2 separate regions of the Homo sapiens genome follow, and region 1 is linked to region 2. The links come from fine-mapping of genetic effects on gene expression. A gene starts in region 2. The other region holds a variant in brackets. All regions are shown on one strand. Distances are between the middles of the regions.

The links. PIP is the estimated chance that this variant, and not a neighbour inherited with it, causes the effect.
Region 1: its variant is fine-mapped to the expression of C17orf67 in whole blood (INTERVAL, PIP above 0.99).

Annotation. Positions count from the first base shown.
Region 1 is chr17:56,760,122-56,777,028 of GRCh38, reverse strand. No RefSeq gene overlaps it. Among named protein-coding and RNA genes, the nearest start is that of C17orf67, 65 kb to the left of the region's middle. The variant G/A (reference allele first, on the strand shown) is at 8,632.
Region 2 is chr17:56,824,708-56,839,224 of GRCh38, reverse strand. C17orf67 (chromosome 17 open reading frame 67) reads left to right here and starts at 5,305. Exons shown (of 8, transcript NM_001085430.4): 1 at 5,305-5,607; 2 at 5,883-6,327; 3 at 13,904-14,144; 4 at 14,372-14,486. It overlaps DGKE (diacylglycerol kinase epsilon), which reads right to left and starts at 5,074. Exons shown (of 12, transcript NM_003647.3): 1 at 4,965-5,074; 2 at 3,966-4,447. The coding sequence starts at 4,429. It overlaps LOC124904036 (a long non-coding RNA gene), which reads left to right. Exons shown (of 3, transcript XR_007065857.1): 3 at 605-2,865. RefSeq lists enhancers at 1,175-1,730, 3,621-4,218, 3,950-4,349, 4,818-5,415 and silencers at 4,740-5,809, 5,783-6,077.

The DNA of each region.
Region 1 (16,907 bases), 63 kb after region 2:
TGAACAGAAGAGTGGATGGTGGAAGGGAGTGGGTTTGGGGCAGAGCAGGTCATGTGTTCAATTGACATTGAGGTCCTAGTGAGATGTCCAGGGGCAGGTGTCAGGTAGGGTCTGGCATGCAGCTGATAGGCTGGGCTGGTCTTGTAGATTGTGAATCATTGGCTTATAGATGGTATTTAATGCCATGGAGTGGGTGAGGTCCCAACCGAGTGAGCAGGGCAGTGCTGGAATGGAGAAGGTGAATGGCGTTCCTGGAATTGGAGGGGCCATATAAGGGAAGACCACACATGGCGGGGTTAGGCTCTCCTACAGGATGATTTGGCATTTGTTTGGGAAACCAATCTTAGGTGGCAAACCATTTCTTATACTTTTATGTTTTTGGAAGAAATAGTAGTGACTTGAAATTTCAGCCACATGATGTATCTTCAGTCATTCTTAGCTTGCTTTGGGGAGTTGGCAGAACCTTGTTGAGGTCGAAAAGCCATAGGTCCTTTGCTGCTGCTTTGTTTTGCTGAAATTCTTCCCATGTGATCTTGTTGGAACAAGGACCTTTCTTGGGTGCTCCTCTCTGTCCTTTAGCCCATTATAGTACTTCCTAGGTAGCCTTTGGGGCAAGGCGAAAATTCCTGAAAAAAGCAAGTTTGTAAGGGCATCTTCTCTCAATTGATGTCCTGTCTGACTTGGTGTGTGTGTGTGTGTGTGTGTGTGTGTGTGTGTGTATATATATATATATAGTGTATTATACATATTTGTATATATGTTATGTATACTAATATAATAAATAATATATTAATATATATAATTTATTTAAGTAAATTAATATAACATGTAGTATTATATATAATAATATATAATATAATATTATATATATATAAAAATGGAGACAGAGTCTCACTCTATTGCTTAGGCTGAAGTGCAGTGGCAGGATGATAGCTCACTGCAGGCTTGAACTCCTGGGCTCAAGTGACACACCTGCCTCAGCCTCCCGAGTAGCTAGGACTACAGGTGCATGCCACCATGCCTGGCTAATTTTTAAATTTCTTTGTAGAGATAGGGAGCTCAATATGTTGCCCAGGTTAGTCTTGAACCCGTGGGCTCAAGGGGTCCTCCTGCCTCAGACTCCCGAGTGGCTGAGATTACAGGCGTGAGCCACCTCGCCCTGTCTGGATTAGGTATTAATTAGTGGGAAGAGCTGCTTTGGAAGGAGGAGTGCCCCTAAATTTAAATGGATGACCGAGCCTTCATCCTCTCACCTTTACACTCTCTCTGATTCCAACTTCCCAAATGTGTGTGAGGTGCTCTGCTGATGGCAGGGAGATAATGTTAAGTAGCAAACAGACATGGCATTAAATTACATTAAATCACAGAGTGATGAACTTACTTCATTTTTAATCCTGCTCTGAAAAGGAGAAAATTCCAGGATTTTTTAATGCTTACTTATCTCTCCTTTTTAACAAACAGTGAGCAGGCCCCTGGGGCCAGACGGAACCTCAGCCAGCACTGCTACCTAGTGATAGTTGTTTTATTTTCATCAATTTTTTATTTTTCCTTCACTTTATGGCAAGCGACGCTAGTTTGCTTTTACAATTGTAGTGCTGTTCACTGCATATTCCAGCCCCCTACTTTGTGGGGCTGTCTGTTGCCTCAGCTAACCTGGTCTATCCTGACTATGGCAGTAGTGATGTAATATATTCTTCTGAAGTAAATGTATTTGAGTAATTTTACAGTTCCCTACACAGCTATGGCAAAATATATGGTGGTGGTAACATAAGCAGCAAAGTTTGGGAAAATGATGGACTAGATGATATAATTTTTTACCTAATTAGGATGATCAACCATCCTGGTTTTTCTGGAATTATGTTCCTGGGATATGAAACTTTCATTTTAGAACTAGGAAAGTCCCAGGCAAACCAGGATGAGCTGGTCAACCTGGTCTTAAGTGGGTATCTTCACTAGTCAGTCTTAATTCAAGTGGGGTGGCTGGGTGTACCCCTCGGAGTCTACAGGGGCACTGGATGACATGAGGGAGTCAGTGGACATTTGCTAGGCCTCCCCTACCCAATCTGGTTGACTTTTCTCATCTGACAGATGAGGAAACCTAAATGGAGTAAAGTGACTGATTGGTTCAAGATTGCACAGATGGTAAGTGGCAGAATGAGGAATAGAACCACATCTCTTGACTGTTAGTTTCAGTTAGTTTTCTTCCCCGTGGGGGAGGTAGGCCTCTTTGCTCAACTCTGTCCTGCCCTTCACAGCCTCTGTTTGCTTTCAGGTGCATCTATAATAATGTTAAGACAAATAACAATTAGATGATATTAATTAAATTGAAACACTGTCCTAAGAGCTTTATGTATATTAGTCATTGATTTCCACAGTCATCCTCTGAGGTAGGTACTATTATTAACCCCTTTTTAGCCATAAGGAAACTGATCTATCAAGAGGTTAAGTCACTTGCCCAAGGTCATCCAGCTGGTGAGTGTCAGAGGCAAGTTTTAGAGCCAAGGCTGTCTAATTTAAGAGTCCGTGTGCTTAACCACCAAGCTTCCCCACCCTCTGTGCTTGTGGTGTGTTTCTATGAACGCTGCTGTTCTGTGGCAGCTCCCGGAAGGCCATGTCCACATTTATTTTGTGGGTGGTAGTGGAAAGGGTTCCGGTTTATGTATCACAAGACTGGGGTTGAATTCTGGCTCCAGCATTCACTTAATGTGCCTGGATCTTACTTGTGGGTAAAATAGGAAAATAATAATAATAAACAATATTATATCTATTTTTCTTTTCTTTGCTGTGTTTTCATAAGGATGACATGAGTAAGTGTATGTGAAGGGACTTTGTGAACAGCCAAATAACAACAGATATCAGTTAGTTTTTGTAAAACAGACAGTAGCATAACGAGATGCTTGTTAAAGGCATGATAATGATGTGTAAAGCCCACTGTGAAGAGGCGATGAATTGGCTAATCATAAAGGCTCTGATTAAAAGTCTAAATGGCAGAGACATAAATAGAAAGTACTCAATAACACTGTGGAATGGACAAATGAATGACGAGAGTTGGAAATAAGAACCATGACCTGGTCAAAAAAGACAAAGTGAAAAAGTGAAAAACAAAAACAAAAAGCCCTTGAAGCCTTGGTATTATATTGTTACTAGGTCCATTCACTTTACAGGTAAGGAAACCCAGGCATAGAGCGCCCAAGAGACTTGCACAGATCATACCTCTGCTCCCGGCTCTGTCCTCACCAGCTGCTGACACTGGACGTGGCTGTGAGCTCTTTGATCCTCATTTTCCTCCTCTGGCATCCAGGGTGGTGAGGAATAGATGATATATTTCACCTAACACTGAAATATGTCTTGAATATAACACTGAATATAACTTGAGCACATCAAGTGCTCAGCATAGTGCCTGGGAATAGTCGATATTAGCTATTATGATTACTGATGGAAGGGCCTGGGTTAAGGTGAACCAATAGTTACTACCTGGAAGATATTGATTTGTATTTCTCCATCTCTGCAGAGATGCTGAAAAAAGTTGCCACGAGAGGCTGTGAAATCTTCCTCTGGGTTCAAAACCTCTCTGATCCTTCCTGGAGGCAGAAGGATGCCTTCAAGATGCCTTGCAGTCTCTCTTTGACTCCAGCCCATCCTCTGGGTTTGAACCTGTCTTTTAGCCAATCCTTTCACATCTTCAACCTTTAGTAAAGAGGCTACCCAATAAAAAAAATTATCTGCTGCTCCCTTCAGCAATGAAATGCTTGGTGCTAACAAAGTGTCTTTCAGATGACCAGAGACACAGATCGCCCACAGGCTGTGCTTCTGGGAGCAATAGCAGGCTGTCTTGCTCCTCCCCCTCTCCCGCCACCCCCAGCATATTATCTATGGGGACTGGAAAACATTATCAAAACAGGCCCCATCTGTTCCTGAAGTTGTGGAAGAGTACTTGTGAGATAAATTTACAGGGTCACTGGAAGACCCTCTAATTTTCTGGGAAATGACAAGGCATCTGTGGCCACGTTGTGTAAAATTTCCTCTTTTATACCCAAGTTACATGCCACGGACTATTTACTTGGAGTCTGAGGATATATTTACCATTCAGGCAACATCACAAGCTGTCAAAGAAATCTACTCAGAGTAGGATGTGTTGGGTGTCTCGCCTTTCTAAAAATGACACTCGCCCCCTGCTTTTTAATTTTTTTTAATAAATCTTTTTAGGCGCTGTGTTCACAGTGCAAATAGCTCAGAAAGGACACTGGAGTCAAAGTTTAAGTCAGGGCAGAAGTGTTGCATGGAAAGAGGACTCAATCCGGCGGCTTTGCCAAGACAGGAAGCAGGCTGTATGTTGGATTTGCTCTACGATGTTCAACCAATGTATGCAGATGATGGGGGTGATGATATATTGATCCGCTGAGTAAGCACCTCCGGTGTTTGAAGGCTCTGTGTCATTCAGAGCAAACAATGGACAGCTACATAGTATAGAGAAGTTGCCTCCAAAGTCAATAGCTGAAGGAATGCTTTGGGGAGATATTAGAGACCATGTTTTTCCAAATTTAGAACCCGCTCACATTTCGTGGGTTCTGACATTAATATTGAGCTTGAACATCAAGTTCTGGCAAAATAAAATTTCCTGATTCAAAACAAGAAGCTGTCTAAGGGATCCTGCGAGGGTGTCTTGGAAGTCTAGGGTCTCTTACAAAACAGCCTATTTGAGGATTCAAAGGTGAATGAACCAGGACCAGACTGATTCCATTTCCCTTGTAGTGCATGTGGCTTGTACAATTAGCAGCAGCTGGGTGGGAGTGGGGATGTGAAGGGGAGGAAAGGACTCTGGAAAAAGTGCATGTGAGATTTTGCTGACCAAAGACATTTGAAAATGAGTATGAATTCTCTGACCAGGTCTCGTGAATCTTGCGGACCTAGTTTTTGGTCTGATACATACCCAAGAAAAGTTGTTAGAAAACAGAGTGGGCATTAGGCCACCTCCCCGGGGACACAAGGACGGCCACTCTGGGCTCTGACTGTCTGTCTTTATCACAAAACCTTAATCTCCAGGACTGGTCTGGTTCCATACCTACTCCTTGGAAGGGGAAATGACTGCTGCCTTGTAATGATTTTGGCCTTGAGCTGGAGGCTCCCACAGCCTTGAGGTTAGGGTTGAGTGACCCCATATGCCAGCCCCTACAGTCTTCCTAAGATTCTCAAATCAAGCCACTTCTAGGCTTAGGAGCTCTCAGTAGCAGTTCTGCTGCTGTAGCTTAGAGTCCAGAGTCCCGAGCATGGACTGCCCCACCTTTTATGGGCAACCCCCTCCTGCCTCCCTCTCCAGTGTTGTCTGCTGCTGCTCCCCGTACTGTATCCTCTAGTCCTATTGAACCACTTTTGTCCCCATTGCAAAGCACAGTAAACTTTCTGATGTCTTTGTCCTTGTTATTTGTTGTGCTTGAAATATCCTCTTCATCACTCCTCTCTTTATCTAAGAATCTTTCCCAGAAGCCACTCTCGAAGCCCAAGACTAGTTTAGTTTGGCTTTTCTCTGCCACCTCTGTGTGTGCATCCTGAACTTACCTCTGTTGTAGAGCTCTCTGTTCTCTGTATTGTAGCAGTCTATTTACATGTGTCATGAGTTGGAGCGCATTATATTTACCAGATTCGAGGGACAGCTGACTGTCCTGGGGCAGGGGCAGTATGTCATATTAGGGAGTGAGGACTAGATTACACTTCGAGGAGTCTGTGCAGCAGGGAGGGTTCCATGTCAATAGCTTGGGCTTTGGGGAACTGGACAATTATTGGTGGGAAAGCAGCAAGATGGTGGAAGGCTGTAGCATGTAGAACATAATCCTTTATAGTAGCTTCTCAGATCTACAGTCAAATCACTAAACCCACAACATCACTGCTGGATTTGTATTTCTTGTGGAAAAATGGTAAAGGGGCTTAGAACTGTGTCCCAGCTGCCTCAAGACCATCCTGGGATGACACCTATAGACACAGGAATGGAGACAGGATCAAGAAGAAGAAAGTGGAATTTCCATAAGTTGTGAGAAGGGAGTCTGGATTCATACAGGTTATGAAATTGGGGATTCAAGCTATGGGTGATATTTGTTTGTCCTGTGAGCTCTGTTGTGGGGAGGAAGTGTAGCTTATTCATTGATGGATCTCCAGTGCCTCACATAGTGCCTGGCATATAGCATATGAGACTAAGTGAATAATTGTTGAATGAATGGAAAGATGGATGGGTGGGTGAGTGGAAATATGGATGGATGGATGAAGGGATAGAGGGATGGAAAGATGATTGGATGGATGGGTGGATGTATGCATGTATGGGTGGATAGATGGATTGAAGGGTAGATGGATAGGTGAATGAATAGATGAATGGGTGGGTAGGTGGGTGGATGAATAGATAGATGGATGGATGGATAGATGGATGATGGATAGATGAATGAATGGAAGGATGGATGAATAGATGGATGAAAGGGTGGATGGATGAGTGTATGAATAGATGGATGATGGATAGATGGATGGAGGAAAGATGGATGGATGGATAGATGAGTGGAAGGGGGATGGGTCTATAGGTGAAAGGGTAGATGGAAAAATGAATAGGTGATAGGTGGATGGGTGGATGGAAAGGTGGATGGATGGCAGGATGTATAACTGTTCCAAAGATGCAGAAAAATTAGTCATGATTTCCCTGTGCCTCAGCTGCCTTTCCTCATCCCGCTGCCTTCCTCAGCTGGCTTACTTGTAGTCCCCCTTCATAACACAGCATCTGAGGCAGAGAGAGGGCCAGGAACAAAGGCTTGGAGGCCAGAAGGAGCAAGGCCCAGCTGGGAAATGGCAAGAAGGTGTATGTTGTAAAGCACATTTTGAAGGAGCGGGCAGAGTTGGGCAGTGCAGCTGGAAAATTTTAATCAGGGGTCAGACCAGGAAAGGACTCTGTGCATCAGTCTAAGCCTTTAGGCTTTGTCCTAAAGCAGTGGGAATTGTTGAAAGGTTTCACACGGGGCAGCATCCTGAACATTTCCCTTCAATTTCTTTGTCTATATCACCTTTTAAACAGATGCTTCAAACTGCCCTTCCAGGAACACTGCAACTCAGGCACAAACCAGGGCAGTCCTGTTTCAGCAGGAAGTCAGAAGTCCTGGGTTTATTTTGAGGCCTCACTCTTTCAGTGAGCTGAGTGACACTGACAGAGTCACTCTACCATGTGCCTTGGTTTTCTCATCTGTAAAGTGAATGAAATAGAACTTACTCAGGGCTGGCTTTATGTATGCACAACTCGTGCAGCGACACTGGATCCCTTGCCCACAACAGTCCTGCACTTAGTTTAATGCTCTGCTGTCATTGTCTTGAAATTCTTATTAATTGGACAAAGAGCTCCACATTTCATTTTGAACTTGGCTCCGCAAACTATGTAGCCAGTGCTGAATTCACCTCATATCCACAACATTAACAGGGATATTGTGGGGGTAAAATAAGATCCAGTATGTGAAAGGTCTTTAAAGATGATAGAACATGAAACAAAAATTAGGCCTTGTTGATACTTCTCTTATTGATATTTCCCAAGGTGACATAATCATTCTAAGTTTGCTGGTTCTCCTGCATGTCAGGTGATGGGTCCCAGACATAATTAAACTCAGTCATTGTCCTCATGAAACTCTAGTTGTTCAATAAAAGGTAGAATTGAAACTTGAACCTATGTCTTTAATACTCAAGTCCAGTGCTCTTTCCTCTATAGTTAACAGTTGCTAATATGTCTATCTGCTCCACTATTCTGTAAGAGACTTTGTGGCTGGGGAAAATTCTCTATCCTCATGTGTCTTGAACAGTCTTTTGTACGTACAAAGCACCCAGTAAATGTTTGTTGAATGAATTAATACATTTGAGAGACTGGCAAAATTATATTCCAAGCATCCTGCTTAAATCTCCTTTAATGCTTCTTACTATTCTCAGAATAAAACTCAAACTCCCTATCTTGGCACAAGGATCTTAGTGGTCCAGCCTCTGCTCAGTTATTCACACCCACCGTGCGCCTGCCATCCCAGGGTCTTAAGACATGCCATTCCTTCTGCCTGGAACACTGTCCTTTGCTTCTCATCCATTGCCTGGCTACCCCCAGCTCATCATGTAACATCCCAAGCTTTACTTTCTCAGGGAGACCTAATGCTGCCTGTGCTGATCTCCCTGACCAAGTCACTGAAATCCTGATGGTCTCTCAAAGTACTGCAAATCCCCCTCTCCTAGTACTTGTTGATGACAATTTTGCACTTTTTTTTAAATGTGGCTATGTGGATAGTTGCCTGCCTCTGCATTTGTAGGGCTACATTTGTGTTTGTTCTCTGAGATATTTCTGGTGATCAGTGCAAGCGCCTTTCACAGAACGAGTGCTCAATAAATATTTGGCGAGTGCATGAAGAAGAGTAAAGTGTTTGCAGTGTTTGTGCATGGATGTTTTCTCCAGCATGATGAGGGAAGTTCCTTTAGGCCTGGAACTATATAATAATCATATAACAATGACCCTGTAACGGGGCTTTTCATATGCACCTGATATTGTGCTAAGTCTTCCCGATGCACCATCTCATACCCGCCCCACAGTACATCTATGGGGTGGGACTGTGATCTCACTTCACAGATGGTGAGATTGAA[G/A]CTCACAGAGATTAAATGATGTCTCCAAGGTCATAGATGTAATAAGGGGCAGTGTGAACTTGAGGTTAGCTCTGGCTAACACTGAAGTCTGGGTTCTTCATTCTTCTCTTTTACCACCTTCTGCTGCTGTTGCTTTTTTTCCAAACTTGACTCCTCCATGAGGGGCCACGCTGGTCTCCGGGGGTCACTAAATGTGCAGGAATCAGCTGGAGGGTCTGTGCTGCACACACGTGAGCCTTGACACATGTGACAGATATGAACAGTGGAGTGACACTACACAGGAGTGTCCACAGGCACAGGGACCTGTCCTGGCTCTGCTCCCGATTGTTGGGTCACCCTGAGAGAGTCACACTTTCTCTGTGAGCTTCAGATTTTCCAAGTGTAAATCTGGGAATTGAATCCAGTGACCTCTAAATTTCTAGCTGGCACTAATTCTGGGTTAAGTTCCAGCTGGATCTATATGATTCTTTCCAACTCTGCCCCTTCCCTATGCCCTAGCCACCCTGTCCTTCTTCTGTTCCTTGAACATGCCAAGCTCCTTTTTGCTCCGTGGCCTTGGCGCCTGGCAGGTTCTCTGTCTGGAGCTTCTTCCCCTGACTTCAGGAGCCAGGCTGGCTCCTGGACATGCAGGAGGTGTCAGCGTACGTGTCACAGAGAGGCCTTTCCCACCCACCTGAGCTAATATTGGATCCCACTCCAGTCACTCTCTATTACCTGAGCCTGGTTTGTTCTCTTCATAGCACTCAACACCATTTAAAATTATTTGATACATACATAAATTTAATCATTTTTCTATTGATAAATATAAGCATTCTTCTATCTATGTATCTCTATTATATATCATTGTTCATTGTTTATGGGTGTCCTGTCACTAGGATGTGAGGCCCATAGGAGCAGGGCAGTGGGCGGGAAATGTCTTATTCCTTGCTGTATTTTTAGCTCTTGGGAAGAGTGCAATGAGTATTTACTGAAGGCATTGAATAATTGAATGAATGAATGAATGAATAGTTCTGTGCTCTCCAAAGCACCAAGGATAGGGACATAACAGGGAGGGAAGATCAGGTAAGATCAGGGCCACTGGTGCCACCATCAGAAGCCCAGCTCCAACCCCTTATCTCACTTCCTGAAGCAATGCAAGGGCCCAATAAATATTCATTAAATACGTGGACTCATCTAACCAAGTAGGCTGTGGCATCTGCTCTGTGTGGCAATTGTGCTTACAAGCCCATTGAGAATTATCCTGGAGGAGGATCACAAATCCCAACAGCCCAGATGAAAGGGCTCCATCCTACCCCATCCTCCCACCCTTTCTCTCTTCTTCAAACCAGTGAATATCAGTGTCCAGCTGCCGGAGGCCAGCCTGCTTGCATCTGACTGGGTCACCCAGGGAGTTTGTATTCAAATTTTGGGAGCATTTCCAAAACTCTCAGACATTCTTCTGATACAAAATCTATAGCTCCCCAGGACTCTGAGGGTTTGGATCTGATTATTTTAAAAAAATGTTCCACAACAGGAAGAAAATGCACTTTCTGCCCCAACCTTTCCTGCCAAGCCCCCAACCTCTCACCTTCTACCTCCCACCTCCCATCATCCAGATTGACCATTTGATACTTTAGAGCTGCCCAGGGGCCGGAGAGAAATGGATTTTATTTTACGTCCCACAGCTGTTGCAATGCTGGAGAAACCCCACGTATTTAAAATATTAAAATGGTTTCCAGCCTGACAACATTTCTTATTTAGTGTTTGAAGATTTGGAGCCTGCTACCCAGTTGACCCATCTCTGGAAAGTAAAAGAAGAAAGTAAAAAATGAAGGCTTAATCCTACTCCTGTTGCCCCCAAGGACATTAGAGCAATTTAGGCAGAGTTTAATATTTGCTGCCCCTGCTGGTTTTCTGGACCCAATGATCTACCCAGAAAGGGGGAAACCTCAGTTCTCAGGCTGGAAAGTGCCTCCTGGGGTGAGATGGAGTGGCCTGAGAATTCATCAAACCTCTCTGCCAGCCTCTGGGCTGGCCCTCAATCCACTGCCTCCCCTCCCCACCACCAAAAAAAAAAAAAAAAAAAAAAAATCTAAAAACTTTGAAAGAAGGCAATTTCACAGTCTCTCTAGGAGTCCGCTTTCATGGTCCAATAAGCCCTTACAGTCAGGAAGTCATTTCTTGGTCTGACCTAAGGCTCTTATGCTGCATTAAACCGTGTTGATCTTAAAGAGTCTGGGTTTCCTGGATGGCACCTATCTTAGGCTTTCCCGGGGCCCATGAAGGCAAATGAGCTCCCTTTAAAGGCACATTTTAGAGGAAATCTGTCTTCTCCTGTCTGATGGCTGGAGCGTTCCTGCTGCTGGAGCCTTTGATGATTTCCTTGCCCGCCAAGGATGCCTGCCCCACAGCAGGGAGGCCGCCCCGAGTTCCGCAGTGCCCTGGGGTTGGTCTCTTTGGCGAGGTTTAGATGAGGCTCTCTGTGCTCTATTCCAATCCGTAACCTTCCTTGGGGGCCAGTGCTGAGAATGCTCTTTATTTTGTTCTTTAATTGTTTTACTAACCTACTGGCTCCATCTCATTCTTCATGCCACTCTTTAGGATACCCCAGCTGGAGAGGGATCTCTAATGGAGACCCTGCCTCCAGGCTACACTCAACCACATTGTCTAGACTGAAGGCACTTTCCCTTATTCTAACCACTCTGACCACCACTGGTTATCCTTTTTCAGTTCTGAATGAAACTTCTAGACCTGAAAGCCCTCACACTGCGGTGGACAGAAAACAGATATTTGTGAATGGAGAGATTAATGAATGAACGGGGTAGTGCATTACCGTGTACTTGACTAGACATGCTGGCATTTTGGGTTTTCAGTTGCTTCCCTGTTTAGCAGTGGGTTTTCTGCTTCGCACTAGCTGAGATCACAAAGCACATTTAGTAAGTAGAGAAAATGCCAGTAATCCAGGACAGGGGAGACCCAGCTGGAAATCCGGGAAAGAGTTTGACCAAATTTTGGCTTCAGCACTCAGCCACGGGCCAGGCAGAACACAGGCTGAGGAGACAAAACTGCCCCTTGTATTGGTGACATCAGCTCCTAGGTGGTTTTACAACTTTACCTCTTGGATCCAGTAAACTCTCCTGTCTTCCTTCCTCTGATCCCCCACCTCCACTTCAAGCCCAACAGAGTCAAATTAAGGAGGATAGTGTCATACTCAAGGTAGCTCCGAACTAAGTTCACTTCTCTGAAATTCCTAACAAAGGATATGCCATAAATATGATGTCTGCATCTCCCCGTCCTCCTCTGACAAAGCAGCCCCCAGAATTTTGAAGCCTGGCTTCTAGAACAAAATGTAATAATATAAACTACTGGACTGGAGGGGTTGGCACTGTTTTACAAAGGCCCCGAATAGGCAGTGAGTTTGGGAATGGGTTGTCCCAGGAACCAAATCTCATTCCATATGGTGAAAGAAAATTTTAACACAAGAAGCTTCTCTTTTTTAACTTTTCTTCTTTTCTTTCTTCTTTTTGTTTTTTTTGAGACTGGATCTCATTTTGTTGCCCAGGCTTGAGTGCAGTGATCCTGGCTCACTGCAGCTTCAACCTCCTGGGCTCAAGCTATCCTCCTGCCTCAGCCTCCCCAGTAGCTGGGATTAAAGGCACACACCACCACACCCAGCTAATTTTAAATTTTTTGTAGAGACAGGGTCTTCCTATGTTGCCCAGGCTGGTCTCAAAGTCCTGGGCTCAAGTGGTCCTGCCACCTCTGCCTCCCAAAGTGGTGGGATCACAGATGTGAGCCACGCCCAGCCTCTTTCGAACATTTTCTATTACTAGTGTCATAACTCTCCTTTTCTGGCATCCTGCCCCTCCAGGCTGGAAGAGACATTATAGCCTCTTGCTCGTGGGCCAGAGTGGTTGACTATTCCCTAAACCTGATGTAGGAGTACCGAGGATCTTGGCTCCCTAACACACTCAAAAAACAAATCTCTGCATCAGCCCTCAGCCATCAGACCAAGTAATATCCCCAAGTCGTTAGAGTACAAATGATAAAACCTGCAAATTAACAAGTCATGAAACTGAAATAATACATCTTCTTCCTTGCTCTCTAGTTAACTAAGCTAAATAATTTTATGATTCTCCTCAGCTTTTTGCAGCTTGAAAAACAAAATAAAATACATTTTGGTAAATCTTGAGTTTTTCTCTCTTGGAAGATGCTTTGAATGCTTTTTCTTTTTCCCTCATCCCAAGTTCCAATCTCCCCCACAAAATAGAATGCTGCCTTTAGGATATAAAGCCTTAGCTTGAGGTTCTCATGAACTCTGAAAGGCCCTTCTTTTTTTATTTTTATTTATTTATTTTTGTGTGTGAGATGGAGTCTCGCTCTGTTGCCCAGGCTAGAGTGCAGTGGTGCGATCTCGGCTCACTGCATGCTCCGCCTCTGGGGTTCACGCCATTCTCCTGCCTCAGCCTCCTGAGTAGCTGGGACTGCAAGGCAGCCAACTCCATGCCTGGCTAATTTTTTGTATTTTTAGTAGAGATGGGATTCACTGTGTTAGCCAGGATAGTCTCAATCTCCTGACCTCGTGCTCTGCCTGCCTCGGCCTCCCAAAGTGTTGGGATTACAGGCGTGAGCCCCTGTGCCCGGCAAGGCCCTTCTTTTTAATCCCAAGGTAATTATTGAGCTCACAGGCCTGTGGGACGTTGTCTTCACTGTAGGAAGTTTTCTGCATCTGAATTTTATCTTGCTTACTGTACTTGATGGTCCTTAGGAAAAAAGGTGCCTCAATTAACAAACTAGAATGCATATTTTAATTGTGCATCTCATTATGTTTTCCTTTGGCCACAAGGAAACCCTCAGTAAAACTTTTTGCTCAATTGCACTAGCTTTCCTTAAAGTTTTTGATTCTGACATCCGCTAGGATGCAGCTCCTGTTAAGGTGCAAGTGTCCAGTGTACCCTTTCAGCTAGACAAAGGAACTCATAGAAAAATTAAGAGTGTGAGTCTACAGACAAAGAGAAGCATGTCTCCAAGAAATTGTGAATTTTGTGCTTTTGGTGCCTGGAGTTGAATGGAATCTAATGCACAGAAAACCCACAAAATTTTTGAGAGAGTTTACTGTCAAAACTACCACCAGGCTTGTCTAAAACAAAATGAAACTGTTGGAGATAAAAACAAATTTCTGGGGCCCCACCTTCTTATAGACAGGAAGCAGACTAAGAGTATGGTCATTGTCATATTCTCCGATGTGCTCTTTTGAAGTGATCAAGGCTGATGGGAAGAGAAAACCTCTCACAGGGCAGAGCCAAGAACCCAGAGAAGAAAGGACTGAGTGTGGAACAGGGGGCCAGGCAAGGAAAATTCTCAACTCCTGGATTAGGAGGACCTGGCCAAAAATTCCCAGCAGAACATCAGAATTGCTGCAGCCCAGTGAGTGCTGAGTGACTCTCATTCCTTTTCTTTCCAAGTAGCAGTGTTTTTCTGATTCTACACCTGTTCCACCGCACCTGGATACATATGGAAAACAACTTGTCTTTTTGATTTTTTGGGTCCTTATCAAATCAAGAGAAGCCTCAGTGAGATCTGGCATGGAACATGGATTTCCAGTTCAATACCAGCATTGGATAAGATTTTTGGAGTGTCCTAGGGATGCAGTGAGTGTATTTTGCGTGTGGGAAAGGAGTGAATATTTGTGACCAAAAGGGCAAACAGTGGCCATTGTCTGTAGATATTCACTCCTTCCCCTTCAACCTATCTCCAGGGGGCACGCACACTTCCCTGCCCTTGACTTTGGGCCTTGCCATTTTACTTGTTTTTGCAAATGAGATGTTAATGGAGGTGACATGAGCAGGAGTTGAAATGTGCTTGTGCTGTAGGGCTTGCTGTCTTGCATTTCTGCCATTGCCACGAGAAAAACACGATATAAGCCCAGTAGGATGAAAGGTATTTGGAACAAAGCTGCCCCAGGTGACCTGTAGACCTGTGGCCGGAAGCCAAGCCACCCCATGTGACCCTCAGGCACAGGAGCGAGAAATACCTCCTGCTGTACGGCACTGTGATGTTTGTGGTTGTTTGTTACACAGTAGTGGCTGACTGAGACAACCTACAATAGCAACCAGGAGCCCCATGGTTTCCTTAAAGACAGGACTTACAAAAGTAAATGGCAAACAATTTGGGAGTGGGCTGATACCAACAGAAAGGAGAAATGATCATAGACTTTGGGATGAACTGACAAAGTTCTCATGACTGCCTGGAAAACTCAGCATACCTAGTGGGTCCTGGAAAAGGTGGGAGGCTATACATACAGAAGCAAGTGTATCTCAAAGTCTCCCGTGCCAGTCAAAGAAAAAGAATAAAGAGTCGGTTGAGGTTGTGGGTGAGGTGAATGGGTTTATAGACTGAGGTTGCCCAGGAATTCGCAGTGTACATATACAGTGTACATACTTACTGTTTGATATATTTATTATACAGTAATTTTCTGATAATTAAACTTCTTAATATAACTTTGTGGTAAGAGTGCTTTTCCCACATTCCAGAGATTACCAGGAGTCTGACTTTTAAAAAATCGTGTTGTATTGTATGTATTTTTAGAAAGAGGTAGAGTAAAAATAAATAGATTAACTAGGACTGCTGGAAAAGGGGGTTGGGTGGGAAAGAAAAATGCCATTCAGAAATAGACCATGAAACTAATTACCTGGATAAGCCAATGTAAAAAAAAAATATTGTTTCAGACAGGTCATAAACTCAAATGCCTTAGGGGACTGGCAGGTGACACAAACAAGTGAGGTAGGCATGGTGGGGAGTGTGGTGATGTGGGAGTGTGCGCCCTGTCCCAGAAGGGCAGCTATGACTGGGCTCCCTCTAATTGTTGCTATGTGGGAGTGGCATCTAGCGTTGCCAGCTCTTCTGAGGAAGCAGGGCTGCCATGTTTGCTTCTGCAGATTGTACACTGCACAAGAGTGCTCAGCTGAGAGGGTAGCTGGAGCCTAAAATTCAGTACAAGCTCCATGTACCAAGCCCTGGGCCAGGACACAGGACTCGAAGAGCAGAAGTAGGCTGGGTTTCAGCCCCTATGTATCCTCTTTAGCCTACCTTTGTGTAATACACAGTCACACAGGGTGGCCTGGGATGGAGGATCTTGCTTCCCATTGTGGAAGGTGAATAAGAAATACCTCTTTATCTTTGCTCCTGACAGCTCAGACACAGGTGCCCTTTCTAGGCTCAGCCAATAGATGCTCCTTTCTAAGGCCTGGAACCTTGTGTGAGTGACAAAAGCACAGAGGTGGAGAGATTACATGGGGTGGCATCCACTGTGTTTAGGTATGTCTGAATGGTGACACATAGAGCACTTCTGAGAACACTGAGCTACTATTGAACAAAACTCTCAGGCATGCTGATTGACCTAGTGGGTCTCCAGCTAGCCATCTCTGGATTAAGACATTCCAGGTCCAGGAAGGTGTATGAGGGTACTCACTTGTTCCCAATAACCTTTGCACATGCATAAGTTTCTCTCTCCTTCCTTCCTTCCTTCTTCCTTCCTCCCCTCCCTCCTCCTCCTTTTCTGTTTCTCTTTCTCTTTCTTTTCTCTTTTCTTTTCTTTCCTTCTTTCCTTCCTTCCTTCCTTCCTTCCTTCCTTCCTTCCTTCCTTCCTTCCTTCCTTCCCTTCTCTTCTCTTCTCCTTGTCCTTCTTCGACAGGGTCTTTCTCTGTCACCCAGGCTGGAGTGCAGTGTCACTATTGAAGCTCATTGCAACCTCAACCTCCCAGACCCAAATGACCCTCCCACCTCAGCCTCCCAATTAGCTGGGACCACAGGTGTGCCCCACCATGCCTGACTAGTTTTTTATATTTTTTGTAAAGATGGAGTCTCCTATTTGCCCAGGCAGGTCTCATGCTCCTAAGCTCAAGTGATCCTCCTGCTTTGGCCTCCCAAAGTGCTGGGATTACAGGCACGAGCCACCACGCTTGACCCTGAGATGTCCTTTCTTGGCATCACAGTGCAGGGCAGTGACAAGCTTCCTGTCTCAGAAGGTTTGGATTTGGTTCCAGTTCTACTAGAGCTTGGTCTCAGAGCTTCCCAGCTCTGTGATTTTGATCATGTTTGCATCATGCTGACTCTTAATTTCCTTGTCTATAAAATGGAAATTTGGATGCTGGTACTCCTTGCCTCTCAGGGATATTGGAAGACTCAAATCCAATAAGATAATGCATGAGAAAGCATGTTGCAAGCCTAACAAACTATGTAAACGTAAGGTATTATTATACTGCTGCAGAGACATGAGAATTCATGTTGCTGATGCT
Region 2 (14,517 bases):
GACATTTTCTCCCACAATATTCTCTTTCCATATAAATTCATATTTTTTTGATCATTTGAAAGTAAACTGCAGACAGTATGAGATCTCACCCTTCAATATTTTAGCAAATATATTCTAAAAGCAAGAATAGTTTACTTGCTTTTTAAAATATTTTACTTAAAAATATTTTTTACAGGTATGCCTACCACCTACATTCTACCATTAACATCTTACTGTAATTGCTTTGTCACATTTCTATCCATTAATTCATCTTATTTTTAGTACATTTCCAAGTAAACTGAAGACATCAGAATACTTCCTGAATACATCAGCAAATAGGCTTATCACTACCTAGAATTCATGATGTTTTTTCCTTTTCATGTAAAATTTACATACAATGAAATGTACGTATATACTTCCTGAGTTTTGATAAATGAACATACGTAACTAAAACCCTTATCAAGATATAGAACATTACTCTAGAAAGTTCCTTCATATGAAAATATGGAATGCCTCATGAATTTATATGCCGTTCTTGTGCAGTAGTATTTATAGAAAAAAAAAAGGTTTAACAAGGCTTGTTTTCTCTAAAAAATTACCTGGTCACAATAGCTCTCTTTTTTAGTGTGCTGAAGGAGGCAGCTGAATTATACATAAAGTTGAGATGGTCATTTATAAGATTCACTAGAACAGGGTTCTGCAAACTGCAAATATGTCTGCCATCTGATTTTGTGAATGAAGTTTTACTGGAACACAGGTAAGCTCATTCATTTATGTATTGTCCATGGCTGGTTTTGCACTGCAACTATGGCAGAGTTAAGTAATTATGACAGACGAAATGGTTGGGAAAGCCGAAAATTCTTTTGGCTCTTTACAGTAAGTTTGCCCACCTCTGCTCTAGAAGATGATTTGGTATCTTTCACTGTTTCAGATAATTAATGAAATGAATAAACACACACCAATAGAATATAGAAACAAAATTTATGATCAAAGCTGAGACTAGTTACACTGAGGCCAATCTAACTGCCTTCTGAGAGTCAGCAGCTTTGTTTTACTAATCACAGTAATTGTGTGTGAGGCGTGGGGTAGATGTAATGAATAAAAAGTCCAATAAATTAAAAAGCACTTTAAGTTCTTTTTCTCTTAATGAGATAGAACACTACAAGAAACAAAGGTTCATTTAATAAATATATTGAATATGTAAAAATATAACCTAATTCCCTATTTTAGTCAGAGGAGAGATAAGAAGAAGAAAAAGAAGATGTAGTGGTTGGGGGTAGAAACAGGAGCACACAAAAAGAAAAAATCTACAGACAAAGTAGACTCTAGCAGTGTCTAGAACAAAAATAGATGCTCAATAAGTATAATGATCGAATGAGTATAAATTAAAGGGCCTTTCTCACTTATTCTGCAGGCTTTAAACTCAGTCATCATCTCTCATTAGTGTCCTTTGAAATGTAACTTGTCTGCAGAGTTCACTCACTTCCCTAAGAATGAGATGCAGACAGGGAAGGAGCTCTCCTCAGGGCTAGATAAAATCCAGAGGACTGTCTGGTCTGTGTTTAAAGGTTCTAAGTAGCTATTTATTTTGTTTCTCCTTCCAAAATATCTCATTCCTACAGAAGGTCACAGGAGACTGTAATCCTGTATACAATTATTGGCCAACATAAATCAGTTCAGAACACTGTAGAATATGTACAACTTCAGGACACTGTGGTCTCTTCTCTTGGGAATAATAAACATCTCCTAAATTACACAGAGACAATTTCTATCATGGGGTAAGGGGTTACTCTGTAAAAATGCACTAATGAAGAAAAGAAGATTTATTATCACACAGATTCAGTGTGCTCAATGGGAGGATACAAAATTAAGAGACGGAGGTGCATGTTTTTAAAGATATGTAAATATAGCAGTGGTTCTCCATCTTTAGAAGGACCTGTAGGGCCTGTTAAAACCAAGACTGCTGATGTCCAGCCCAAGTTTCTGATTTAGTAGGTCTGGGGTTGGGCTAGGGTTGCCAGAAAAAAAAAACAAAAAAACGGCAATGCCTAGTTGAATTTGAATTTCAGAGAAACTTTTTATGTTCCAAATTCTGCAATATTTTATTTTTATCTGCTAAATCTAGCAACCCTAGAATTTGCATTTCTAACAGATTTTGAAGAGATGCTGATGCTGCTGGTCTAGGGACCTTACTTTGAGAACCACTGAGATATAGGATATTACGTTATCACCAAAAAGGAAAAACTGGGGGAGGAGGGAAGCTGAGTAGATCAGGTAAGAGTTCCTGAAGGAAAGGACAAGGACATGGGATGGGTCTTTAAGGGTGCCTAGAAGCTAGCCAGAAGAATACTGAGAGGAAAGCTTTGAGCAAAGGGGCAGAAATGTCAGAAAATGCCTGACGTTTTAAGGAAATTACAAGAAGCTTAGTGTTGCTGGTGCATAAAGTTTAATGCAGGTGGTGGTAGATAAAACTAAAAGGACAGAGGCCAGAAAGTACTAGGACCTTATGTACCCTGTGAAAAAGCACTTAGGGGTTTACACTGTAAAACAGTCAGCTTACCCGATGGGGAGCAATTTAAAGGATTTTAAGCAGAGCAGGGACTTGATCAGATTTGCATTTTTAGAAAGATCATTTGGGTGGAGGATCAGAAGCATGATTATGTGTTCAAGAGTATTTGAAATACGGTTATTTATGGAAACCATTTTTAATATAATTCTGCACAGACACAGACTGCTGGAGGCTACACCAGAGAAGGGAAGGAAATAGAACAATACTCAATTCATTATGAAATTTATTTAAAGTCCCTGCTAACTTGGCTCTCACTGATGCCAGAAGGACAGCATTTAATTTTTAAAGATACCAAATAAAAATGCATGGTTACAAAACTTTGTAGTTGTCTAGAATACATTATTTTGAACATTTATTCTTAAGCCTCTTTGATAATGTGTAAAATTATTTAAAATAAGACTTAAAAACAGGTATTGACATTATAATAGCGTTCATGCTAATGAAAGAATTTCTGCAAAAAAAATTAAAAAAATTAAAAAGCAGCTTCCTATTTACTGCCTATTTCATTTCTTAAGCATGTTTATGCGCCTTTCTACTTGTCAGAAATAAAACCCATTACAATGAAGATGTCCAGACTTAAGGCTCAAAGGAGGCTAAGTGTTAGTCCAGAGCTGGAAATCCTGGAGGCCAGTCCTATTTTACCAGAGTGGACCTAACGGGCTTTAATTTTCTCAACTGTGAACTGAGTTAGAATAGATCATTTGCAAAGCAGCATTCTCCTTTACCAATTTCCAACATCAGCAAAGGACATCTTCACCTATTTTCAAACAATATTTAAGGACAAAAATGTGTTGTCCAGTGTGTATATAAAAGACATTAAAATATTCTTGGCTTAATCAAGGTCACTTATCTAAGATTCTACATGTCCTGAAAGACCAAGCGTCAAAAGGAATATTCCTTTCAGTGTTCTTTTTGAGTATATTTCGCTATGGTACCAACAGCTATATTAGCAAAAGACATAAAAGTGCTGCCTTGGAATGACACTTGTTTTCACTGCACATTCATAGTACAAAACCTGTGACCCATCAGTTTTGCGGCTGAAGGGAAAAGTTAATTTGTCCATATTTCATTTTTCCTTATTTAAAATAAGGAGATAATCGATAGGAACAAAAGCTAAAATATACAGTGGCCATGAAGCAGGCACCACTTAGAAACCTCTGTATTAACGTTAGGAGCCAAGTTTTATTACCCAAAAGGGCAGGCTGGCTGAGGAGTGGAGGCTGGATGCATCGTCTCAGCAAATGACTACTGCAAAGCTGCCACGCTTGCACAAACTCAGGGATGTTTATTTATTAGCTTGTTTCCTCAAAATGAGTTTAGGTCATCAGCAGAGATTAAAGCAGGCCTCTACACCACTCTATGAAATCCTGATTCCCACGGCGCATTCTGGGACAGTGAGTGTCCACGAAGACCATACCTGTAATCGCAAAGCTTGGGTTGACAGCCACACTGCTGCTTGCAAACCATACAGTAACTGCACAGGGGCACGTTGCCCCGGATCCAGTGGTGGGGCATGGCGTCCAGGACCTTGGTGTCATTCTTGAGCATAATCTCCTTGCACTGGAAGCGCTTGTCGGCCTTCCTGAGGCAGCCCTCGTCCACGCGGAGCCCGCAGCAGTCGCAGAAGGCGCCCTGCAGAATGTGCTGCGCGCACACGCAGCAGTAGGTGGGCTGGCTGAACAGGTCCGTGTCGCGCCACCCGTGCTTGCTCTTGCGGAAGATGTCCCTGCGGTGCAGCTGCCGGCGCGACCGCTGGAGGCTACACCAGAAGGTGATGAACACCGGCAGCAGGACCGAGCACAGCGTCCACAAGATCAGGTGCCCGTCCGCAAACAGGCCCTCGGAGGGCGAGCCCGGCGCCGGCCGCCTCTCCGCTTCCATCTTCTCCAAGGACGATACCTAACCAGAAAAGAAACAGGCGGTGCACCCCGAGCTCGCCATCCCTTCCCCGCCCCCTTCCTGCCTTTCCGGGGCCAAACCGGGCGCCCTCAGTGAAGGTGGCTCCGCTCTCCCGAGGGCGGGACTGCGCCTCGTCCCCCCGTCTCCCGGGACCTGCCGCGCCGAGAAGGCGACGTCCAGCCATCACGCTCCAATCCCCACTCCCCAACCCGCCCCACCTCGGGAGCGCGTCCAGGAGCCCAAGGCGGCTGCTGCTGCCGCCGCCGCCTCACCTTGCCGCCGGTCTGACCCACGGAAGGGCGCAACATACAGGGGCAAGCTGCCCTCCACCGAAAGGCCGGGCGTTCAGGCCAGGCAACGCCGGTCGGCGCCCGTAACCGTCGGCCCAGGCCTCGCACTCCCCTCCGGGGCGCCGTCTCCTCCCGGGCCCCACCCGCTCCCACGCGCGGCCCGGCGACCCTAGCCCCTCTCGGGAGGCCTCCGGAGACCTGCGCCGCGCCGGTCCTCGAAGCCCTACCTCGCGCGGGTGGAGGCGCGGCTCCGGGCCAGCAGGCCTTGGCCGCCTCGCGCAGGAGGAGAACGACGCTGGGCCGCCAGCAGGGATGAAGCCGGGCGGGGGAAACGCTTAAGGCTCCAGCCGCACGCACGCCGATCCGGCGCGCGGGGCCGCGAGCTGGAGGCGGGGCCTGTGGCGGCGAGCCCCGTGGCTGGGCGGAGCCAGGGCTGACGGGCGGGGCGGAGGTGTGAGGTGGGAGGGGAGACGGACCGGCCTGAGGGGGCGGGGCCGTGGAGGAGGCTGGAGACGGATGGAAGAGGCAGGGCACTGCGGCTGGGGGCGGGGCCTAGGGGAAGGGGGCGGAGTAACAGTGGGGCGTTTGAGAGGATGGAGGGTTGAATGCCAAAACTTCGTAATCGTAGAAAATTCTGGAAAGCCGCCGGCGGGGCAAGGCCACGAGGATCCTCCTCGCAGCACCGCGCCGCGCGGGGCCCAGGGGCCGCGCTCACGCCCGCCGCTCGGCGCAGACACGAGTGCCCCCGACTTGAGCCGAACCTCTAGCCGATGCCGGCGCCGCCGCCGCCGGGGATGCGTAAGCCGACTGGGAAGCGAGGGGGGGAGGCGGCCTGCGCGGCACCGCCCGACCTGGCCGCGGCGGGCTGAGGTAGGTGTGGCGGCCGCAGTAACGCAAACCTGAGGGCTCCTCCGCTGCGGAGCGGCGGGCGGGCGCGGAGGCCGAGGGCGAGCGGGGCAGCCGCCCGCTCGTCGCCGCTGACCCCGAGCCCGGCCGCGGTTTCCGCCCCCTGCCGTGGCGGGCGGGCCTCCCCTGCGCTACCCCCTCGCCCGCGCCCGCCAGCGCCCGAGGCCGGGGAGAAAGGGGAGCAGCGGGAGCCGGGGACTACCGGAGATGGGAGCACGCCTCCTGCTGCTGTCGTCCAGCCCCAGGTTCCGGAGGAATGCTCGCTCCCCGCTGGAGTCCTACCAGCCCAACACGGACCTGAGCCGCGACCACGCGGGCTGCAGCCTGCAGCACATCAGCTACCCGGAGAACGCGGACGCGGAAGCACCGCTGCTCAGCACCCCCGAAGAAACACGGAATCCAGAGAGGCACAGGCACCGCCCCGGCGCGCACAGCTGCACTCAGCGGCTTCCTTCCTACTACATACATACATAGGAGTGGGAGCCGAGGACCACTTGTTGCTTGCGGACTTCCTCTAGCATAAAAGATGGAAAGAAAACACACACCGAAGCAAGGGACCAAAGGAACAGAAAAGAAACGCAGAGATCATAGGAAAACTGCAAAGAAATACTTGATAATATCTTCCAAACGATTAGAGAAGACATAACATTCATTAAGAATACACATATAGATGTATATATACGTGTATGTGTGTATGTATATATTATTATGTGTGCATATATATGCATGTGTATGTGCGTATATTTGTATTAACTGTAGAAGATAAAGCTAGACACTAGTAAAAGTGGTAAAGCAGATTTTAATAATATACTATTGTAATAGGGAAGAAGGTACCTCGTGAACGGAACTGAACTTTGTGCAGAAGTGACTAGGTGTTTAAGAGGGAGGAGGAGGGAATGTGAAGGGGATGAGCAGGAACTCAGTAGTCAGGAAAGTGAAACTTGTGAAGGGTGGGTCAGTGTAAGTAAGGTTAGGCGACAGTGCCTGTTAGATGGCTGTTATGGGAGTCAGGGTCCTATCCTCCCACAGTAACTGGGAGATAGGCCCTTTGCTTCCTGGTGATTGCATGTTGGAGGAATGGCTTTCAGGTTCTTGAGAAGGATACTCCTGATGTGTAGGAGACATTACATCCCAGAGAGACAGAGGAAGGATTCACAATTGTTTAGTTTTTTGTTGTTGTTGTTAACTCTTTAAGAAAGGGACATCAGGGGCTGCTTGTAAGGTGTTGGCAATAGCCAACAGTGAGTTCTTTTGGCAGCTTTCCCAGGAAGATACTTTAGGGGGTCTGGGGTCATCCTATGGATGCAGCTTTGAGCAGTTAAAAACTATGTGTTTAGGCCGGGCGCTGTGGCTCACGCCTGTAACCCCAACACTTTGGGAGGCCGAGGCAGGTGCATCACGGGGTCAGGAATTCAAGATCAGCCTGGTCAAGATGGTGAAACCCCGTCTCTACTAAAAATACAAAAAATTAGCTGGGCATCGTGGTGAGTGCCTGTAGTCCCAGCTACTTGGGAGGCTTGAGGCAGAGAATTGCTTAACCCAGGAGGCGGAGGTTGCAGTGAGCTGAGATCGCACCAATGTATTCCAGCCGGGGCGACAGAGCGAAACTCCGTCTCAAAAAAAAAGAAAGAAAAAGAAACTGTGTGTTTAAGCGTTTTGATATAGGGGGAAGGATGGACCCGATCCTTTTTGCTGAAGTCTGCAGATTTCATAGGCCAAGGTGGAGGCCTAGTTGAAAAGGGGGCTCAGGGAAGCCTGGCTAGAGCTTGGTCAAGGAGGGGATCTTCATCAGTCGTACGTATGTACATGGCACGTGGACCTGCATAGACACGTGTTTGGTGGAGGCTGTCTTATACGGATTCTGCACAACTCAAGTCCCCTAATGGGAACAGACTTGGGGAGGTCACTCTTGAGGCTTTTTGTGGTATTGTGGCTACTGGGAGACCTGAGGAGGGTTCTGGTCACTAGCAGACTCATTTCATTCACCCCTTGGAATCTGCCCAGGACTTGGACTTCTGTGTAATAGTAACTTCACGCCCCAATGATCCTCCACGTTCCTTGCTGATGCTGTGATTGCTCCTCCAAGTTCTCCACCTATGTCCATCTGAGCACTTGGTATTTCTACTCTAGTGTCAAAAGGTCCTGTTCCCAAGTCTCCTCCCAAACATTTATTCCAATTTATCATCCAGATGCCCGTCCTTTGCCATCCCTCTCTGTTCCAGCAAAGGACACCACCCCTCAGGGAGATGCTCACAGTGGACTCCTTGTCCTCATCCTGACTCCCCTTTTCTCTGGCACCCGCAGGCCTCAGTGAGTCTCTCGGTCTCTGGCAGCAGCACAGGTCCTGGACTCGAGCCCATCTCTCCATCCCCCCCTCCACTACTCCCCTGGTCCAGCTGTCACCATTCTCACCCTTGAATGACTGTCACAGCCTCCCACCTGGTCTTCCTGCTTTACTATGTTCCCTGCAGGCTGCCTCTGAACTTTTATATTGAAATGAAACTCTTACTGTGGGGAAAACCCCTCCATTCTCAGACCCCTGGTACCCTTCACTCATTTACCACTCTGGCCATCGTTCACTGAGTTCAGGCCACTCTGGCCTCTGCATGGTCCTCACGCCCACCAGACTCATGCCCCCTTCAGGGCTATTGTCAGTTCTACCCCCTTTTCCTACAAAGTTCTTCCCTATGTCTTCGTTGCCCAGGTGCTCCCTCCCGACAGAGGCCTTGCTGACCACCCCTACCAAGATTGCCCCACATTTATGTAAATCCAGTCTGTTTAACTATTAGGGTGAGTGACCTCCATTCATACTTGATAAATAATTTACAGTTATCTAAATACAGTGCCTGACTCAACATAAAGACACAGAGGAAGTTTAAATGGAAAGTTTAATTCAGGTTACTTTTGTCAGGTATCTCTCTTACATACCAAAATAAAAATGTATAAATACAAAAAAAAAATTAGCCAGGCGTGGTGGCTAATTGAGAGGAGATGGGGAAAAGTGATGTGGGGTTCCCCAATGTTGTCCAAGGGGATTTCTTCTTAGAAATCTCTCCCTACATCACTCTTGTAGTGAAATAAAACCATCTCCATGTAATTTATTAATTTTGTTTTTTGAAAAATATCCACTATTTGAATCTAAATATTATAGAAATTTCTCTTTAAACATTCCCTTTTACTTTATCCCAAAATAAATCTCCCTTTGCATAAATTTTTTCTTTTTCTTTTTTTTTTTTTGAGACGGAGTCTCGCTCTGTCACCCAGACTGGAGTGCAGTGGTGCGATCTTGGCTCACTGCAAGCTCCGCCTCCCAGGTTCACGCCATTCTCTTGCCTCAGCCTCCCGAGTAGCTGGGACTACAGGTGCCCGCCACCACGCCCGGCTAATTTTTTTTGTGTTTTTAGTGGAGACGGGATTTCACCATGTTAGCGAGGATGGTCCTGATCTCCTGACCTCATGATCCGCCTGCCTCAGCCTCCCAAAGTGCTGGGATTACAGGTGTGAGCCACCACGCCCGGCCAAATTTTTCAACAAATACATACTCAAGCCAAAAAATGGTGCTTTAACTTATGACTTAAAATTGTTGGGACTATAACTCTAGAAAAAATATTGCAGTTGAGTACCGAAAGTATTGATAAATGAAATCTGTTTTCAAAGTGCAATAATTTTGTAGAGGATAAAATAGAAATTGTTCACCTAGGAGATTAATACATAAATAATATTTACAGAGCATTGTCTTGAGAAATGCAGTTTGATGATGTTTCAGTTTGAGCAAAAGATGAGGCTCTAAAGTATGGCATTTCTTTTGCTGCTAATGAGAGAGAATCCAGACTTTGCTGATGTGCTCCAGGGTCTCCTGTATTCTTTAGATTTGGAGGAATCAACCATGAAGGAGCTGGCTGCAGTGTCAGAAGGGGAAGGTGGAAACTTCAACACAAAAAGGGGCTCCCCTAGATCCACTGGCCTCAGGGACCCTCGGATGGAGTCAACATGGGAGAACCTGGCCTGGCAGCTCTGGAGGCCTGAGTGGAGGGGAGAGAACAGCGCTGCCCTAAGACCCAAGCCCTCCTGGGGAAGGGAGCAGCAGGGCTTGGCTCTTGGCTGCCTGGCTGGTGTGGAAAAGCTCCTTGTGATGGGGTGACTCCCATGGCCTCTTCCAGGGACTCCAGCATAGATAACGTCTCTGCCAGCCCTTCTTGTTGCTTAGAGAGTCTGGATCTCTCTTCTTTTTTCTTTTCTTCTTTAAACCTCTCTTCTTTGAGTTCTTGAACCAGGGATGTGATTTTTATTTTATTTTATTTTTTTGCAATGGAGTCTTGCTCTTGTTGCCCAGGCTGGAGTGTAATGGTGCGATCTCAGCTCACTGCAATCTCCACCTCCCAGGTTCAAGCAATTCTCCTGCTCCAGCCTGCTGAGTAGCTGGGATTACAGGCGCCCGCCACCATGCCTGGCTAATTTTTGTATTGTTAGTAGAGATGGGTTTCACTGCTGGCCAGGCTGGTCTTGAACTCCTGACTCAGGTGATCTGTCCACCTCGGCCTCCCAAAGTGTTGAAATTACAGGTGTGAGCAGCTGTGCCCCGCTGGGATGTGAATTTCTGCATCAGCATTGCGTTGGTGCTGTTCACCTTATAAGCATCTACAAAACTGGGGATGTTTAAATACTTTTTCATACACCGACATCCTCTAAGGATCCCTCAATCTCTGCAGTGTTTTTTTTTTTTTTTTTGTCATCACTGTGCTTGCCTGTGAGTTGGCATTTCTCCTCCATGTGTGAATCCAGTGTTTCTGCAAGCTGCTTTTCGTATGTTACATGGAGTCGATTCCTAACAGGTTGACTAAGGAAATGAAAGCCACGAAAGTTAGGATAGTAGTTCCCTGTGATGGGGGAGAAGGTGTACCAAACAACTGGGCACACCAGAGCTCCCAATCTTCAATATGTTAACCTGGGTAGTGGGTACACAGGTGTTTGTTTAATTTTTATGTTAGAAACTATGTATATATGGTTTATAAACTCTTCTGTATGTGTGACAGATTTCAAAATATAAACAACATCAAAAAAGTTTTGAATAAAGAATTACCTAGGGAACTTGTTAAGAAGGCGGATTCCTAGTTGCATTTCATATTCTGATTCCAGAGACCTGGTCAGGACCACAGAATCCACATTTTTTTTTTTGAGACAAGAGTTTTGCTCTTGTTGCCCAGGCTGGAGTGCAATGGTGTGATCCCGGCTCACCACAACCTCCGCCTCCTGGGTTCAAGCGATTCTCCTACCTCAGCCTCCCGAGTAGCTGGGATTACACGCATGCGCCACCACGTCCAGCTAATTTTGTATTTTTAGCAGAGATGGGATTTCTCCATGTTGGTCAGGCTGGTCTAGAACTCCCAACCTCAGATGATCCACCCACCCTGTCCTCCCAAAGTGCTGGGATTACAAGCGTGAGCCGCCGTGCCTGGCTTTTTTTTTTTTTTTTTGAGACTGAGTCTTGTTCTGTCGCCAGGCTGGAGTGCGGGTACACTGAGCTAATTTTTGTATTTTTAGTAGAGATGGGGTTTCACCATATTGGCTGGGATGATCTCGAACTCCTGATCTCGCGATCCGCCTGCCTTGGCCTCCCAAAGTGCTGGGATTACAGGTGTGAGCCACTGCGACCGGCCCAGCATCCACATTTTTAAATGATGCTAATGGAGGCGGTTCGAAAACCACAGTCTGAGGTGTGTTAAATACTCCATGCCCACGTTACACGGAGTCCATTCCTAATACATTGACTAAGTCTGAATAAAACTAAGACCCATCACTAAGCCCGTGAGGTGTGGACACACCAGTGTCTTCCCATGGAGGCTGTGGAAAGTGACTTGAGGACTTGGGTCATGGGGCGGCAGCCCCACCATCTCCTCATCCAGCTTCCCAGGGTTCAGTCCAGGGTCCACCTCCACAGAGGATCGCAGCCCCTCCATGACACTGCAGTCCCACACGGCCAATAGTGGGACTGAGATCACTGTTTTAACTTGGTCAATCAAGTCAGCTTCAACTGAAATTAAACCATTAAAGATACTCTGCTACTTCTCTGAGAACCTTGCCCTGGGAATCTTGTTAAAATGCAGATTCTGATTTCCTTTCTCAGGGAAGAGGCCTGATAACCTGCATTTCTAAGAAGCTCCAAGGTGCTGCCACAGGGCTCTGCCTAGTAACCATGGATTCCACAGCCACAACAGACACCAGAGAACACCCCACCATTCTGCCTGTACTCAATCAGCAGTGGGCATCCTGGATTGGTTAATTTTATGATCACTTAGAGGGAGAAATTTGTAAATAAAATCTACTTGTCTCAAAAAAAATTCTGGTAGGAATGATTTACAGTATGAGTTAAGCTTATCTATGACCTTCAGCCTCCGCACTTTCTCACCATCTGGTGAGAGCTGGCACAGTTTTGAATGTTGGGATGCAGAAAACTGGCAGTTTTGAGAATGTTATATACTAAAGAATGGGACAGTTCAAGTCAAAAATTGATAAATGATAACCTATGCTCTTGTTGGTTATTTATTAAACACGTACTGGCTGAGCACTTAACTATGTGCCAAGCATTGCACAGCTTGTGCAGAGCGCCAGGCCTGTCAAAACATAACCAACAAGAAGCATTATTTACAGGCACTGTTTACAGGTACTGCACCCTGCTTCCATCTCTGCACTTGCTATGCACCATGTAGGTTTATGATCCCCATTTTACAGATGAAAAAACCCAGGCACAGAGAGGTTGAGAAACATGCTTCATGTCACACAGCCAATGGTGGGACTGAGATCACTGTTTTAACTTGGTCAACTAAGTCAGCTTCAACTGAAATTAAACCATTAAAGAAAGACTTTCTCTTATTCTGCTACTTCTCTGAGAACCTTGCCCTGGGAATCTTGTTAAAATGCAGATTCTGATTTCCTTTCTCAGGGAAGAGGCCTGATAACCTGCGTTTCTAAGAAGCTCCAAGGTGCTGCTGCTAGTTCCAGGACCACACTTTTGAGTTTGGAGGCTGAAGTATTTAACAGTCTGTATTGTGAAAACGCAGGGGCAGTGTAATGAAGTGGGAGGAGTGTTAGATGGGATTGTGAGGCCTGGGAAGAGAACCTGGACCTCAGACATCTGTGTCCCCTTGTGCTTGTCAGTTCACCTCCTTGGGCTCAGGTTAGATGAGATCTCTAAAGCATAACTTCTGCTTCAGTAGCCTGCACAGTGTGTGAAAGTGTCATTGTCTTTTATGAATCCTAGCTGATGCAGAACGCTTAAATTAGTTTAGATTTGAAGATATAACAAAATAATACACTTTTAAAAAGTGACAGACTGGGCATGGTGGCTCACACCTGTAATCCCAGCACTTTGGGAGACTAAGGCAGGTGGATCCCTTGAGGCCAGGAGTTGAAGACAAGCCTGGCCAACATGGTGAAACCCCATCTCTACTAAAAATAAAAAATTAGCTGGGTGTGGTGGTGCGTGCCTGTAATCCCAGCTACTCGGGAGCCTGAGGCAGGAGAATCACATGAGTTCAGGAGGTGGAGGTTGCAGTGAGCCGAGATTGTGCCACTGCACTCCAGCCTGGGTGACAGAGCGAGACTCCGTCACACACACGCGTGCACACACACACACACACTCACAGGTTTCCCCCAATCCCCATTATAGAGTATTTGAAAAAGTAAAAAGGAAGAAAAGAATCACCATCTCTCACTCCAAAGACACCCTGTGTTTGAACATTTTGGTCTATTCCATTATTTTCTATGGAAACTGATTTACTTTTTTTTAATGCATACTTTTGATGATGTGGTAGATAATAGTGTCTATCTGGCTCTTATTTAGCATTACAAAATAACTTTTATATGTTATTAAAAAGTCCTATTTAATGGCTACATTATACTCCATTCTATGAATATAGCTTACAGTGTGTATAACCTTACTTTTGTTGTAGCTATTTCTAATATTTTGCTATTATAAATAATTCCTTTGTTTAGGGTTATTTCCTTAGATTCTCAGATTTAGTTAAAGAATTTGAAAAGTTTAAGGCTTATGGGAAAGCTTTTAAGAATAGTAGTCTCTCTTTGCTAAGTAAATTTTTATCTGGAAAATTTACCTGTGTAGGGACAGATTAATAGAAATTGCCACACCTGAGGAGATACACTCTTAATTCACTAAAAGTAATAATAATATTTGTGGCCAACATGTGTTGATGAGTTAGTAGGTCCTAGGCACTGTGTTAAGTTTATCATCCTTATTTTACAGATGAAGAAAACCTGCTTGATATCACACAGTCAGGAGTCAACTGAGTTGGGGCTTTGAACTTAGGTTTATCTGATGCCAAAGTTTGTGATGCTCTTCAACCATTTAGGGTACCGCAGAGTGTGGATTTTGAATCACCTGCATCAGCATCATTTTAAAATATAGATTCTGTGGTCCTGACCAGGTCTCTGAAGTCAGAATATGAAGTGGAGCTAGGAATCTAACTTCTTAACAAGTTCCCTAGGTAATTCTTTATTCAAACTTTTTTTGTTTATATTTTGAAATGTGTCACACATGCAGAAGAGTTTATAAAACACATATACGGTTTTAAAAATAATAGTAAAAACCTGGTTAACATATTGAAGATTTGAGAGCTCTTGTGTGCTCACTTGTTTGATACACCTTCTCCCCCATCAGAAGGAACTACTATCGTAACTTTTGTGGCCTTCATTTCTTTGCTTTTCTTTATAGATGCCTAAGGGTATCCCTGAATGATACAGTTTTGTTTGAAAGACTGAAAAGCCCAAAGCTGGCCCTTTTGGGAAATAGCAGTAAATCATTGATATGTGAAGGTTCCCAGCAGGAGGTAAGTTGAGCAATGTCTTTGGGACAGAGTC